Linked DNA regions of Homo sapiens: region 2 is linked to region 1. The links come from fine-mapping of genetic effects on gene expression. Tissue or cell type: lymphoblastoid cells. Region 1 holds a variant in brackets; the other region holds the start of a gene. All regions are shown on one strand. Distances are from middle to middle.

What was found. PIP is the estimated chance that this variant, and not a neighbour inherited with it, causes the effect.
Region 2: it holds the start of LZIC, and the variant in region 1 is fine-mapped to the expression of LZIC in lymphoblastoid cells (GTEx, PIP 0.93).

What each region holds. Positions count from the first base shown.
Region 1 is chr1:9,997,955-10,006,007 of GRCh38, forward strand. The region is part of intron 1 of RBP7 (retinol binding protein 7); the gene reads left to right. LOC124903840 (basic salivary proline-rich protein 2-like) reads right to left here and starts at 135. Exons shown (of 2, transcript XM_047436754.1): 1 at 1-135. The coding sequence starts at 76. RefSeq lists a silencer at 1,023-1,223. The variant T/C (reference allele first, on the strand shown) is at 3,659.
Region 2 is chr1:9,939,075-9,947,127 of GRCh38, forward strand. It overlaps LZIC (leucine zipper and CTNNBIP1 domain containing), which reads right to left and starts at 4,317. Exons shown (of 8, transcript NM_032368.5): 1 at 4,175-4,317; 2 at 3,550-3,708. It overlaps NMNAT1 (nicotinamide nucleotide adenylyltransferase 1), which reads left to right and starts at 4,401. Exons shown (of 5, transcript NM_022787.4): 1 at 4,401-4,441. RefSeq lists enhancers at 1-250, 251-751, 3,346-3,916, 3,450-4,649, 3,917-4,486.

The DNA.
Region 1 (8,053 bases):
CGCCGCCTCCCACGAGGGCTGGGTGCCCGCGGCGTTCTTGCTCCCGGGGGCCCCGCGCTGTGCTTCCCGCCCTCATCGCGGTGCCAACGGTGCGCGGACTCTCAACTCACTGCAACCTCCGCCTCCTCGGTTCAAGCGATTCTCCTGCCACAGCCTTCCAAGTAGCTGGGATTACACGCGTGCGCCAGCCACCACGTCCGGCTAATTTTGTACTTTTAGTAGAGAAGGGGTTTCACTATATTGGTCAGGCTGGTGTCCAACTCCTGACCTCAGGTGATCCACCCGCCTTGGCCTCCCAAAGTGCTGGGATTACAGGTGTGAGCCACGCGCCCTGCCACGAGTGTAGTTTTTCTTGTAGCTTTAGGAATCTGGGAAGTTGCCGTGCCGGCCAATCCCTGAACCCTTGACCCGTGGGCAATTTTTGTTTTCTTTTTTTCTTTCTTTCTTTCTTTCTTTTTTTTTTTTTTTTTTGAGACGGAGTCTCGCTCTGTTGCCCAGGCTGGAGTGCAGTAGTACGATCTCGGCTCACTGCAAGCTCCGCCTACCGGGTTCACGCCATTTTCCTGCCTCAGCCTCTCCGAGTAGCTGGGACTATAGGCGCCCGCCACCACGCCCAGCTAATTTTTGTATTTTTTAGTAGAAACGGGGTTTCACCATGTTGGCCAGGCTGGTCTCGAACATCTGCCCTCGTGATCTGCCCACCTTGGCCTCCCAAAGTGCTGGGATTACAGGCGTGAGGCACCGCACCGGCCAATTTTTGTTTTCTTAACCTTAGGGCCCATCTTAGTTGATAAAGGGGCATTTATTTTGCTCTTTCATATCCCAAGAGATAAGAGTGTTCCTCTGGGTATGGGAAAAGCACCTCTCACTTGAGAGTCTTATGATCTTCTTCAGAGGAAGAGCAGAGAATTCTTTTATGGCCTGCTTCAGGGAAGAGGGGCAAAAGAAGGTCTGAGGGGGACCTTCCTGCTACTGTTATTTCCTCAAATGCCAAGTGATATGGTTTGGCTGTGTCCCCACCCAAATCTCATGGGAGTTGTAGTTCCCATAATTCTCATGTGTTGTGGGAGGGACCTGAGGAGAGGTAATTGAATCATGGGGTAGTTTTCCCCACACTGTTCTGGTGGTAGTGAATGTCTCATGAGATTTGATGGTTTTACAAGGGGTTTCCCCTTTCATTTGGCTCTCATTCTCTCTTGCCTGCCACCATGTAAGACGTGCCTTTTGCCTTCTGCCATGATTTTGAGGCTTCCCCAGCCACGTGGAACTGCGGCAGTTAAACCTCTTTTTCTTTATAAGTTACCCACTCTTGCCAGGCTCGGTGGCTCACGCCTGTAATCCCAGCACTTTGGGAGGCTGAGGCGGGTGGATCAACTGAGGTCAGGAGTTCAAGACCAGCCTGGCCAACATGGTGAAACCCCGTCTCAACTAAAAATACCAAAAAGAAATTAGCTGGGCATGGTGGCGGGCGCCTGTAATCCCAGCTACTTTGGGAGGCTGAGGCAGGAGAATCACTTGAACCTAGGAGGCAGAGGTTGCAGTGAGCTGAGATGGTGCCATTGCACTCCAGCCTGGGCAACAAGAGTGAAACTCTGTCTAAAATAATAATAATAATAAGTTACCCACTCTTGGATATGTCTTTATCAGCAGCGTGAAAATGGACATAAGGTGCCATGTTCTGAGGTCGCCTATCCAGAAACCCTTAAATCCAGAACGGTTTTCTGAAAACCAGCAACTGTGTTTCAACTTCAGATCTAATTTGTTAAAGTACTAAGTACTTACATCAATTTGTTAAAGTGCTAAGTACTTAGGTCACACTTATAGCACTAGAGTGGTTGTTTACATAATACTGTAATACTCTTTTTTTTTTTTTTTTTTTTTTAGATGGAGTCTGGCTCTATTGCCTAGGCTGGAGTGCAGTGGCGCGATCTCGGTGTGAGCCACTGTGCCCAGCCATAATACTATAATACATTTTATCTTAAGAATTAAGTTGGTCTGGGTGCAGTGGCTCACACCTGTAATCCCAGCACTTTGGGATGCTGAGGCAGGTGGATCATGAGGTCAGGAGTTCAAGACCAGCCTGGCCAACATGGTGAAGCCCCACCTCTACTAAAAATACAAAAAATTAGCTGGGCATGATGGCATGCACCTGTAATCCCGCTACTTGTGAGGCTGAAGCAGGAGAATTGCTTGAACCCAGAAGGTGGAGGTTGCAGTGAGCCGAGATTGCGCCATTGCACTCTAGCCAGGGAGACAAAGCAAGACTCCATCTTGAAAAAAAATAATTAAGCTAGCAGACTGGGCAGGTGGCTCACGCCTATAATCCCAGCACTTTGGGAGGCCGAGGTGGGTGGATCACCTGAAGTCAGGAGTTTGAGACCAGCCTGGCCAACATGGTGAAATACCCCATCTCTACTAAAAGTACAAAAATTAGCTAGGCATGGTGGCTCATGCCTGTAGTCCCAGCTAATTGGGAGGCTGAGGCACGAGAATCGCTTGAACCTGAGAGGTGGAGGTTGCAGTGAGCCCAGATCACGACACTGCACTCTAGCCTGGGCAACAGCATGAGACTTGGTCTCAAAAAAAATAAGTCAATAAGACAAAAAAAAAAATTCAGCTAGCAATCTTGAATTTTACTGATTTACTTGAATATATAATTAACTTTAAATTTATATGCTTGTTCATGTACATGTAAGGAAAATACATTCCATAAAAAATCACAGATATAGTACTTAGATCTTTAAACTGTAGGGTCTAGGAAAATAATAAATGATCGCCTCTTTTTTTGTTGTTGTTGTTGAGATGGAGTCTCTCTCTGTTGCCCAGGCTAGAGTGCAGTGGTGCGATCTCGGCTCACTGCAACCTCTGCCTCCTGAGTTCAAGCAATTCTCCTGCTTCAGCCTCCTGAGTAGCTGGTATTACAGGTGCCCACCACCTCTCCTGGCTAATTTTTGTATTTTTAATAGAGACGGAGTTTTACCATCTTGGCCAGGCTGGTCTTGAACTCCTGACCTCGTGATCCACCCGCCTTGGCCTCCCAAAGTGCTGGGATTACAGGCGTGAGCTACCGTGCCTGGCTGATTGCCTCTTTTTTAGTAGTAGAAGTGAGGTAAATGCCTGTTGGCAGTGATGCTAAGGGTCAAATAAGTCACCAGCAAATACACAGCACACATCTCATGATGTGCTCCAGCTGGCATCTCATTTGAGGGCAGAAAATCACTCCCTTTTGTCTAAAAACTAGTGTTCAGGAACTGATCCTGCAGCTCCCACCCGGGCTCTGGCATCACTCTCTCCCAGCATTTGCCAAACCGCAGTGAGAAGAAAGGCAGCTTGTCTTTGCACAAAGAAGCAAGTTTACTTGGGTTTTTTGAGATAGGGTCTTGCTCTGTCGCTCAGGCTGTAGTGCAGTGGTGCGATCATGGCTCACTGCAGCCTTCACTTCCTGGGCTCAGGCGATCCTCCCACCTCAGCCTTCCAAGTAGCTGGGACAACAGGTGCATACCACCACACTTGGCCAATTTTTCAATTTTTTTGTAGAGACGGTGTCTTGCTGTGTTGTCCAGGCTGGTCTCAAACTCCTGGCCACATGCAATCCTCCTGCCTCTGCCTTGCTTGGGTTTTAATATTTGGAGCTAACCTGGGATTTGGGAGTTCCTGG[T/C]GTACCCCCACAGCAGCCAAGGACACTGAAGGTGCGTGCTTCAGAAATGGAGAAGCCCCATGTTAATGCCCACAGATATTGACTAACTTGTGCAAGTCCTCGCCTTTAGTCCTGTTATGAACCCAAGAAGGTGGTGGTGTTACTAACTTGTCCCAGATTACTGTGTACACTGGGATATATTTATTTAATTTAATTAGTTTATTTATTTATTTATTTATTTATTTATTTATTTTTGAGACAGAGTCTCCCTTTGTTGCCCAGTCTGGAGTGCAGTGGCACGGATCTTGGCTCACTGCAACTCCGTCTCCCGGGTTCAAGCAATTCTCCTGCCTCAGCCTCCCAAGTAGCTGGGATTACAGGCACACGCCCCCACACCCCGTTAATTTTATATTTTTAGTACAGACAGGGTTTCACCACGTTGGCCAGGCTGGTCTCGAACTCCTGAGCTCAGGTGACCTGCCTGCCTCGGCCTCCTAAAGTGCTGGGATTACAGGCATGAGCCACCACATCTGGCCCTACACTGGGATTTAAAGGGATCCCTTCTTGCCTTCAACCCACATTGCCTTGAGATTAGAAGTGGCTTTGAGATTGAAGGTTAATATAAACATCTGAAGCTTAGATAAATGTACGTTTGTGTGGACTCCTTTGAGATCCTACCTTCAGGTGTATATGCTCACACATTTGTAATAGCACGTGCATCAGGCTGTTCCCTCCTACTCGAATGTCTTATTTTCTATTTAACATAATCTAGTAGATGAAAAAGCATGGCTTGACCTGGGTAACAGCCTTATGAGGAATATGGCCTTTTGGACTGTTGGACTGTTGAGGTTCTAGTAAGTGTGGACCTGGCAGAAAGTGACCAGAACTTATGCTAATTTATTCATTTTATTTTATTTTTATTTTTTGAGATAGGATCTCACTCTGTTGCCCAGGCTGGAGTGTAGTGGCACCATCTTGGCTCATTGCAACCTCCTCCTTCTAGGCTCAAGCGATCCTCCCACCTCAGCCTCCCCAGCAGCCAGGACTGCAGGTGCACACCACCATGCCCAGCTAATTTTTATTTTATTTTTTGGTAGAGATGCGGTTTCACCATGTTGGCCAGGCTGGTCTTGAACTCCTGGCCTCAAGTGATCTGCCTGCCTCGGCTTCCCAAAGTGCTGGAATTACAGGCCTGAGCCACTGGACCTGGCCCAGAACTTATGCTAATTCAAAGTAAATTTTGGTATTTAAAGAGGCCAGCCTTGTAACTGCAAATCTGTGAAGTGACAATGTTGCAACATGGTAGTGAGGTAGGAGGCAGGGCTCAACTCCAGAAGCCAGAAGCGGGGCTTGGGACAGCGGACCAAACTGAGGACTAACTAAAACAGGGATAGGATGGAAGCAGCTTTTCATAAAACACATAAAACAGTGTGCCATATCAGTTTACCATTGCCATGGCAACACCTGGAGTTAGCACCCCTTTCCATGGCAATGACCAGAGGACCCAAAAGTTACTACCCCTTCCCTAGAAATGTCTGCATAAACCACCCGTTAGCCGGGCATGGTGGCTCACGCCTGTAATCCCAGCACTTTGGGAGGCTGAGGTGGGTGGATCACCTGAGGTCAGGAGTTCGAGACCAGCCTGGCCAACATGGTGAAACCCATCTCTACCAAAAATACAAAAATTAGCTGGGCGTGGTGGTGGGCACCTGTAGTCTCAGCTACTCAGGAGACTGAGGCAGGAGAATCATTTGAATCCGGAGGCAGAGGTTGCAGTGAGCCAAGATCGTGCTGCCATTGCACTCCAGCCTGGGTGACAAGAGCAAAACTCTGTCTGAATAAACAAACAAACAAACAAACAAAAACAAAAAAACCACCCCTTACTCTGCATGTAACTAGAAGTGGGTATAAATATGACTACAAAACTGCCCTGAGCTGCTACTTTCTGCCTATGGGGTAGCTCTTTTCTGCGGGAGCAGTCACAGAGCTGTGACACTGCTTCTTCAATAAAGCTGTTTTCTTCTCCCTCTGGCTTGCCCTTGAATTCTTTCCTGGGCAAAGCCAAGAACCTCTGCAGGCTAATCCCCGCTCTGGGGCTCACCTGCCCTACATGAGTAGTGCAAATTGTAAATTTGCTAACAACAAATTGCCTCACATATTTTATTTTATTTATTTATTTTTTGAGATGGATTCTTGCTCTGTCACCTAGGCTGGAGTGCAGTAGCGAGATTTCAGCTTGCTGCAACCTCCACCTCCCGGGTTCAAGAGATTCTCCTGCCTAAGCCTCCCGAGTAGCTGGGATTACAGGCACCCCCCACCACGCCTGACTAATTCTTGTATTTTTAGTAGAGATGGGGTTTTGCCATGTTGGCCAGGCTGGTCTCGAACTCCTGACCTCAGGTGATCTGCCCTCCTCAGCCTCCCAAAGTGTTAGGATTACAGGTGTGAACTACCACGCCTGGCCTGCCTCACAATTTTTTTTTTTTTTTTTTTTTTTTTAGATGGAGTTTTGCTCTTGTTGCCCAGGCTGGAGTGCAATGGCGGGATCTCGGCTCACCGCAACTTCCGTCTCCCCGGTTCAAACAATTCTCCTGCTTCAGCCTCCTGAGTAGCTGGGATTGCAGGCATGCCCCACCACGCCCAGCTAATTTTGTATTTTTAGTAGAGACGGGGTTTCTCCATATTGGTCAGGCTGGTCTCCAACTCCCGACCTCAGGTGATCGCCCACCTCTGCCTCCCAAAGTGCTGGGATTAAGGCATGAGCCACTGCGCCCAGCCAGATTGATGGATTGATTGATTTTGAGATGGAGTTTCCCTCTTGTTGCCCAGGCTGGAGTGCAATGGTGCAATCTCAACTCACCTCAACCTCTGCCTCCCAGGTTCAAGCGACTCTCCTGCCTCAGCCTCTGGAGTAGCTGGGATTACAGGCATGCGCCACCATGCCCGGCTAATTTTGTATTTTTAGTAGAGACGGGGTTTCTCCATATTGGTCAGGCTGGTCGCGTTGGTCTGCCCGCCTCGGCCTCCCGAAGTGCTGGGATTACAGGCATGAGCAACCGTGCCCGGCGCCTCACAGATTTTAAAAGCGTAACTCTAAACTCATTGTTAGTCTAAAGTTATTGGGTTTTGATTTGCTTACATAATAGGGTTTAAGGAAAGTCAGCAGTAAGTTTGGCTTGGTCATATTAATAATAGGAAATGAGCCTGAGTAACATGGTGAAACTTCATCTCTACCAAAGAAAAATTCAAAAATTAGCCAGGTGTGGTGGCACATGCCTGTAGCCCCAGCTACTTGGGAGGCTGAGGTGGGAAGATCTCTCGAGCCTGGGAAGCAAAGGCTGCAGTGAGCCGAGATTGCACCACTGCAGTCCAGCCTGGGCAACAGAATGAGACCCTGTCTCAAAAAAATAATAATAATAGGAAGTGATTTTAAGGTTTTGGTCTCAATACTTAAATATTTAAATATTGTTGAAAACCAGTAAAGCCTGGATCATATTGCATCTCAAACTAAAAACTGGAGTTCTAGATTTAAACACACACACACAAGCTTTTTTATTTGCAGCTGAGACTACAGGCATGTACCACTATGCCCAGCTGTTTTTTTGAGATATTTGTTTGTTTGTTCATTTGTTTGTTTTTGAGATGGAGTTTTACTCCGTCCCCAGGCTACAGTGCAGTGGCTCGACCTCAGCTCACTGCAACCTCCGCCTCCTGGGTTCAACTGATTCTCCTGCCTCAGCCCGACCCAGGTGTGAGCCACCATGCCCAGCCTCAGCTGTTTTTATTTTTTTATAGAAATGGGGTCTTGCTATGTTGTCCAGGCTGGTCTTGAACTCCTGGGCTCAAGTGATCCTCCCACCTTGGCCTCCAGAAGTGTTGGGATTACAGGTATGAGCCACTGTGCCTGGCTACAAAAATTTTTTCTTAGGATGAGGACATTTATACTATTGTTTTATTTTTGGTTGTTGTTGTTTGGGTTTTTTTTTTTTTGAGACGGAGTCTTGCTCTGTTGCCCAGGCTGGAGTGCAGTCGCACGATCTCGGCTCACTGCAGCCTCCACCTCCTGGGTTCAAGCAATTCTCCTGCCACAGTCTCCCGAGTAGCTGGGATTACAGGGGTGCACCACCATGCCCAGCTAATTTTTGTTTTTCAGTAGAGATGGGGTTTTGCCATGTTGCCCAGGCTGGTTTTGAACTCCTGACCTCAGGTGATCCACCTGCCTCTGCCTCCCAAAGTGCTGGGATTACAGGCATGAGCCACCACGGCTGGCAGAATCACGTCTCATCTCTAACTCCTCTCCTTCCTCCTCCCTCTCCCCGATTCTGCGGCAGATACACTAGGCTCCTCAGAGTTCCCGAAACACACTGGCACACCCTTCCTCAGAGTCCCAGGGCTCCCTGGATTTCTGCCTTAAAC
Region 2 (8,053 bases), 59 kb before region 1:
AGGAATCACTTCTTTTTTTTTTAGACTGAGTCTTGCTCTGTCGCCCCGACTGGAGTGCGGTGGCACGATTTCGGCTCACTGCAACCTCCACCTCCTGGGTTTCAGCAATTCTCCTGCCTCAGCCTCTTGAGTGCGTGCCACCACGTCCGGCTAATTTTTGTATTTTTAGTAGAAATGTGGTTTTGCCATATTGGCCAGGTCGGTCTTGAACTCCTGACCTCAAATGATCCACTCACCCCAGCCTCCCAAAGTGCTAGGATTACAGGCATGAGGCACCCCACTTGGCTTTTTTTTTTTTCTTTTTTTTTTGACACAGAGTATCGCTCTGTCACCCAGGCTGGAGTGCAGTAGGCTGGAGTGCAGTGATGTGATCTCAGCTCACTGCAACCTCCACATCCTGGGCTCAAGTGATTCTCCTGCCTCAGCCTCCTGAGTAGCTAGGATTACAGGTGTGCCACCACATCTGCCTTTTTTTTTTTTTTTTTTTTTGGTATTTTTAGTAGAGACAGTGTTTCGCCATGTTGGCCTTGGCCTCCTAAAATGCTGGGATTACAGGCATGAGCCACTGTGTCCAGCCCTCAGGCAACATTTCTTGCTATTTACATTATTATGGCTTTATCACTGATATATCTCGATAACTGATAATGACTTGCCTTTATTGTTTTCTCCTCCCCAAAATTCTTGGCTCTTCTTGTGCACTTTCTCTTCCAGATGAATTTAACAATCAGTATGTCAAGTTTCATTAAATATCCTATTGACTGGGGCCAGGCATGGTGTCTCACACCTGTAATCCCAGCACTTTAGGAGGCTAAGGCAGGCAGATCACTTGAGACCAGGAGTTACAGACCAGCCTGGCCGACACGGCGAAACCCCGTCTCTACAATAAATTAAAATATTAGCTGGGCATGGTGGTGTGTGCTTGTAGTCCCAGCTACTTGGCGGGCTGAGGTGGGAGAATCATCCAAGCCTTGGAGGCAGAGGTTGCAGTGAGCTGAGATTGTGACACTGCACTCCAGCCTGGGAGACAGAGTGAGACTCCTACTCAAAAAAAAACAAAAAACAAAAAACAAACCACAAAACTTTCCAGGTAACTTATTAAAACATGTTTTTTGTTTGTTTTGAGACAGAGTCTTGCTCTGTCGCCCAGGCTGGAGTGCAGTGGAGCAATCTCAGCTCACTGCAAGCTCCGCCTCCCGGGTTCACACCATTCTCCTGCCTCAGCCTCCCGAGTAGCTAGGACTATAGGCACCCGCCACCACGCCCAGCTTATTTTTTTTGTATTTTTTAGTAGAGACGGGGTTTCATCGTGTTAGCCAGGATGGTCTCGATCTCCTGACCTCGTGATCCGCCCACCTCAGCCTCCCAAAGTGCTGGGATTACAGGCGTGAGCCACTGCACCCGGCCTAGTTTTTGTATATTTTTTTTAGTAGAGACAGGGTTTCACCATGTTAGCCAGGATGGTCTCAATCTCCTGACCTCGTGATCCGCCCGCCTCGGCCTCCCAAAGTGCTGGGGTTACAGGCGTGAGCCACCGCACACAGCATTAAAGCATGTTTTATTTTCCTACACATAATGAAATCATTACCAGATGATTTGACATGTGTACTTCATTGGAGAGGATTCTTACAGTATATTCAAAATTAAATATAATGACAAAAAATTACTACCTAATCTATTAAAATTGGCATAAGTCATCTATGATCATTAATGATATGCAAACATAAACAAGTATTATACCCAGAAGTGTAATTTATTGTAGCTACATCTTATGTATAATAGTTTAGTGGATTTTTCCTGGAAATTGTCCATTTTAATTTTTCTCTTAAGTCTGTGGAATTTTCCAGTAAAAGTCAAGGCAAACCCAAGATGTAACTGACAATGTCTTTTCAGAGTTAGTTTCCTACAGTCTAACCACACTGGATGACTTGCTGTTCCAAAAATGTCATGCACTTTTTTGAGCCTGCATTTTTTTTTCTACCTATGAAGCCCAGTTCATTCTTCAAAGTCTAGTTCAAGTGTCACCTTCTCTACAAGGTCTTCCTTGATTTCCTCCCAATCACTAGGTTGTGAATTATTTAAGTAGGGATTTTACCTTTTCTTTCTTTCGTTCGTTCGTTCTTTCTTTCCTCTTTCTTTTTTTTTTGATGGCGTCTCACGGTCACCCAGGTGGAGTGCAGTGGCATGATCTTGGTTCACTGCAACCTCTGCCTCCTGGGTTCAAGTGACTCTCCTGCCTCGGTCTCCCGAGTAGCTGGGAATGTAGGTGCCCGCCACCACGCTCAGCTGATTTTTGTACTTTTAGTAGAGATGAGGTTTCACCATGTTGGCCAGGCTGGTCTCAAACTCCTGACCTCAGGTGATCCGCCTGCCTCAGCCTCCCAAAATGCTGGGATTACAGGTGTAAGCTATCGTGCCTAGCCTTTACCTTTTTTTTTTTTTTTTTTGAGATGGAGTCTCACTCTGTCGCCAGGCTGGAGTGCAGTGGCACGATCTCGGCTCACTGCAACCTCCGCTTCCCAGGTTGAAGAGATTCTCCTGCCTCGGCCTCCCAAGTAGCTGGGATTACAGGCACGCACTACCACGCCCAGCTAATTTTTGTATTTTTAGGAGAGACGGGTTTCACCATATTGGCCAGGATGGTCTCGATCTCTTGCCCTCGTGATCTGCCTGCCTCGGCCTCCCAAAGTGCTGGGATTACAGGCGTGAGCCACCGCACCCGGCCTTTACCTTTTCTTTATACACCAGCATCCAGCACAATCTTGGACAGACAAAAAGTGCCGAATAAACAACTGGTAGATGAATAATGAGAATTGATTGCTTCTTCTTTAGCATTCAAATCTTTTTTTTTAAAATTTTTTTTGAGACGGAGTCTCGCTCTGTCGTCCAGGATGGAGTGCAGTGGCGCGATCTCGGCTCACTGCAACCTCAGCCTCCTGGGTTCAAGCAATTCTCCTGCCTCAGCCTCTCCAGTAGCTGGGACTACAGGCATGCGTCACCACATCTGGCTAATTTTTGTATTTTTAGTAGAGATGGGGTTTCACCATGTTGTCCAGGCGAGTCTTGAACTCCTGACCTCTGGTGATCCACTTGCCTCAGTCTCCCAAAGTGATGGGATTACAGGCGTGAGTCACCGCGCCCAGCTCAAATCTTATTCTCTATTTAGCACTTATTTCTGCCTTTAATTATATATGATTTTATTATAATACGTTATCTCCTCTGACTAAACTCTGGAGAACAGAATATGAGTCTGATTCCTCTCTCAGCTTTCTCAGTACCTAATACAGAATAGAACGTCGATAATTTGGTCACGTATATAAAGGCTCAACATATTTTAAGGAGCTAAAGCTATTCTGAATACATTTCAGTAAAAATGGGTGCATTTTAAAAGCCTTAACCTGGTACTACATTAGTTGAGATTTATCCCCGAAAGATTAACTCGTTGGCACCACCTAGTAGTCACTAAATGTGGTGCACTTTTCACTTTTACGAAACTACAGAAACCGCTCTCAGACACTATATCTGGAGCGGAGGGTCCTCATTCATGCTCACCTGTCTCTTAGTACTCTGATCTCTGCACAGTGCCGACCGGTCTCAAATTGCACAAACCTCCAGTTCTTGACGTTCCGAGTGTCATAAACTTGAGGAAAATGAAATTATTCATCAGGACTACAAAAGGCTCAAAGTTCAAACCACCTCGGGGTGGAGATGCTGGAAAAAAGGAAACCATTAACAAGTAATTTTATTTGCTATATATAAACTTGCCCTAAGGCAGTCCAGATAACTTCCACTTGAGCAGCCTGAGACATCAAGGGCGGGGGCACTTTCCCCCTCGACTGCGCCTACCGCAGCCTTTCTGAGTTTCTTCCTAGCGAGGCCGAGAGGGTCTTTGAGGAAAATCCCGCATCCGGACACGCCTTGAGGGATGGCGTCAAACCCAGAGGCTTGGAAAAGGTAAGGGCGGAGAGCACGCCTCTTCCTTGAAAGTGAGGAGGGTTTGGCCCAGAACCAACAGGACTGGGTGAAGAATCAGCTCCGGCCACCGCAGCAAATCCCACCCCACGCGGGAACTTGAAGTCCGGCACGTAGGTCCCGCGGCGGCCGGGCTCCAACAGGCCCCAATTGCCACCAGAGGTAGCCGTAAACCCATGGTCCCCGAAACTCCTTCCGGGCCTACCTGACAAAAACTGGGACAACCTCCTTAGGCCCCCGGGATTCCCCCTGTGCCGCCTGACCGCCCGCCAGTCCCAGAGTTTAGGGCCAGGGGCCCCGCCTACCTGAGGGCACTGGCCTGGCGGACCGCGCCGGGGGAGCACTTCCGCTGGACGCACGCACTTCCGGCCCCCTGGAACCAATGAGAGTGCGACCGAGATGTTCCACTCGCTGGCGTCCGGGCCGCTGGTGATCTCCGGTAGCACTCGGGCCGGCGGACAGTGAGGGCGCGGTAAGCTCCCCGCAAGGAGCCCCTGAGAAACTGGTCGCTTTTTGTCCTAGATATAGGGGAGTCCAGGATGGTGTGGTGGAGTCTTTAGAGTCGAATATGACCCGAGGCAAGCTCATATTCAGGTTTGGGGCAAGGAGCTTTGATTGACCCTTAATTTTTTCAGTGGAACGGAAAACTTCGGTAAAATAGCTTCTGACCTTCGGAACAGATGGATTCACCTTGGAAAGGAAAAATCTCTTTCTAGAAGAGTCTTGAGGTCTGGCACCTTTAGGCTTAACGGGGGACGGCTGGGCGTCAGAGGAGGAAATCCTTCATTCCGAACGACTTCCCTTTCCTCCTAAATCCTTCTTTCCAAATCTGTAAAAGACTACATCTACTTTGCTGGAGGTGGTTTGACACTCATGCTCCTTGAGAAGGAGGTAATGAGCTGTAGGGCAGCTCTTAAAAAGTTACCCTTGGACGGGCGCGGTGGCTCACGCCTGTAATCCCAGCACTTTGGGAGGCCGAGGCAGGCGGATCACGAGGTCAGGAGTTCGAGACCAGCCTGGCCAACATAGTGAAACCCCGTCTCTACTAAAAATACAAAAAATTAGCTGGGCGTGGTGGTGGGCGCCTGTAATCTCAGCTACTCGGGAGGCTGAGGCAGGAGAATCGCTTGAATCCTGGAGGCGGAGGTTACAGTGAGCCGAGATCGCGCCATTGCACTCCAGCCGGGGCGACAGTTCGAGACTCCATCTCAAAAATAAAAATAAAAAAAAGTTACCCTTGGCTGTCGCGGTGTGACACCTGTAAACCCAGCACTTTGAGAGCCCGCGGTGGGAGGATCATTTGAGCCCAGGCTGGGCAACATAGCAAGACCCTCATAACAAAAAATTAAAAATAAAATTACCCAGAAACTGGTTGGAACTATTTAATGATGTTCTTAGTCCATCTTCCTGAAGTAGTCCACAGAACAACATCAGTGTTCATGGTAGAATTGTTTCATCAGGGCAGTTTTTTTTTAAGTAACAATGTCTTGTTAAAAAACAAGAGCTGTGTTGCCCAGGCTGGAGTGCAGTGGTGTGATCATAGCTCACTGCAGCCTTGAACTCCTGGGCTCAAGCGATCCTCTGGCCTTGGCCCCTCAAAGTGTTGTGGTGATTGGCACAAGCCACCGACAGGCCTGGAGTCTGAAGTTAGTTATATTTCAGCTACCCAGGATAAACTTCTAACTATGATTACCACAGAACTCTACCAAAACTAATTGTTTCACTTAGTTCTGTCTGATTATGGAATCTCTTTATTACCATCAGTTGTTTTTCAGAGTTACAATTTGAATATGAAACCATTTTTCTAGCCCACCTTAGAGAAGACTGTTGACACACTAGTTGAAATGGTTGCAATAGCCTCTACCTTGCAAGACACTTCAGATTCAAAGAATTTCCTTTGCAAAAGTCGGCCGGGTGCAGTGGCTCATGCCTGTAATCCCAGCACTTTGGGAGGCCAAGGCGGGCAGATCACTTAAGGTCAGGAATTCAAAACCAGCCCGGCCAACATGGTGAAACCCCATCTCTACTAAAAATACAAAAATTAACCAGGCGTGGTGGTCCATGCCTGTAATCTTAGCTACTCAGGAGGCTGAGGCATGAGAATCGCTTGAACTCAGGAGGTGAATGCTGCAGTGAGCCAAGATCACGACGCTGCACTGCAGCCTGGGTGACAGAGCAACTCCGTCTTAAAAAAACAAAACAAAACAAAACAAAAGAAGAAAAAAATAAAAGTACCTATTAATGCAATTATCTTTCAATTTTGATTCATAAATATGTGTGGAAGTGTCAATGTTTTGGGTAAAATGGAATTCACAGTGACAGAGTCAGTGCCATACAAAACAAAACTGGAAAATATACTTTAAAAAAATTATTTGAGCTGGGTGTAGTGGCTCACACCTGTAATCCCAGGACTTTGGGAAGCCGAGGTGGGCGGATCACGAGGTCAGGAGTTTGAGACCAGCCTGGCCCCTATGGTGAAACCCTGTCTCTACTAAAAATACAAAAAATTAGCTGTGCATGGTGGCGTATGCCTGTAGTTCCAGCTACTCGGGAGGCTGAGGCAGGAGAATTGCTTGAACCCGGCAGGCGGAGGTTGCAGTGAGCCGAGATCGTGCTCTTCAGCCTGGGCTACAGGGTGAGACTCGGTCTCAAAAAAATAATAATAATAATTTGAAAAATTTGCTGAATAAACATTTGTTCACAGTGTACTTTCCCTGATTTTTTAATTTTTGTTTTTGTTTGCCCTGTCACCCAGACTGGAGTACAGTGACACGAGCACGGCTCACTGCAGCCTTAATCTCTCAGGCTCAAGTGATCCTTGCACCTCAGCCTCCCTAGTAGCTGGGACTTCAGGTGCATGCCACCACATCCGGCTAGTTTTTGTATTTTTTGTAGAGATGAGGTTTTGTCATGTTGCCCAGGCTGGTTTCAAACTCCTGGGCTCAAGTAATCCTCCCACCTTGGCCCCGCAAAGTGCCGGAATTACAGGCATGAGCCACCCCACCCAGCCTTCCCCTAATTTTGATAATGATAATCCAATGTTCTGTTCTGGCATTTGTGTAGTTTTAGCGTGTGCAGTCTTCGAAGCAGTGGAGGTATTTGCCTTTTCTTCTCTGTGACTTAGTCATTCAGCAGTTCTATGCTAAGGGTTTTTTTATATGCCTTTAGGTTCTTGTTTAGAGTTAATGGATAATGAAAACATTTCTAATGCATAAGAGAAATGCATTCTGAAACAAAAATAGAATACAAGCCTTCAGACAGAAGGCAGAGAAGAAACTGGAGAAAGAGAAATAAGATGTTAGGTAGGAAACCATGGGAGACAGCACTGGGGAAAGTAACCTCCAGACTGGGAGTCACTGGGAAACCAGATAAATGCTCCTTGGCAGCGGGAGGAGTTGAGGACACTTCAGCTTGGTCTTGGGATGGGAGCCCAGAGAACGCAAGTTGCTCCAACTAGGTAGGGAAAATGCTGGGACAGATGAAACTTGAGTGGCTAACAAGAAGTACCAGGAGCCAAAGGCTCTCTGAACACTTGGGCCTCTTTTAAATGTCTGCCTTAAATAGCTTGTACCATTGTAAGTCTTGCATAATGGGTGAGAACATGAACTTTTAGAATCAAAGATGTCACTCTAGGTGTGGTTGTATTTGGAGTAAGGAAATAATTAAGGTTAAATGAGGTCATAAGTGTGGGGCCCTGATCCGATAGGACTAGTGTCCTTATCAGAAGAGTGAATGGAGAGCTTGCCCCTTACCCTTACATACTGAAGAAAGATTATGTGAGGACTAGCAAGAAGGTGGCCATGTACAAGACAGGAACAGAGCTGCCACCAGAGACCAAATTGGCCAAAACCTTGATCTTGGGCTTCTAGTCTCCAGAATGGTGACAAAGTAAATTTCTGTTGTTTAAGTCACCCAGTCTGTGGTATTTTAGTATGACAGCCCAAGCAGACAAATACACCATCTATATGCAGATACATCCAAATCTCTAGTCTGTTGTATGTCTGTACCTCTCCCCTGAACTTGGCTTTGTTCTCCACTTGCCTACTTATTGTCACCACTTGGATATATAATAGATGTCTCAAAC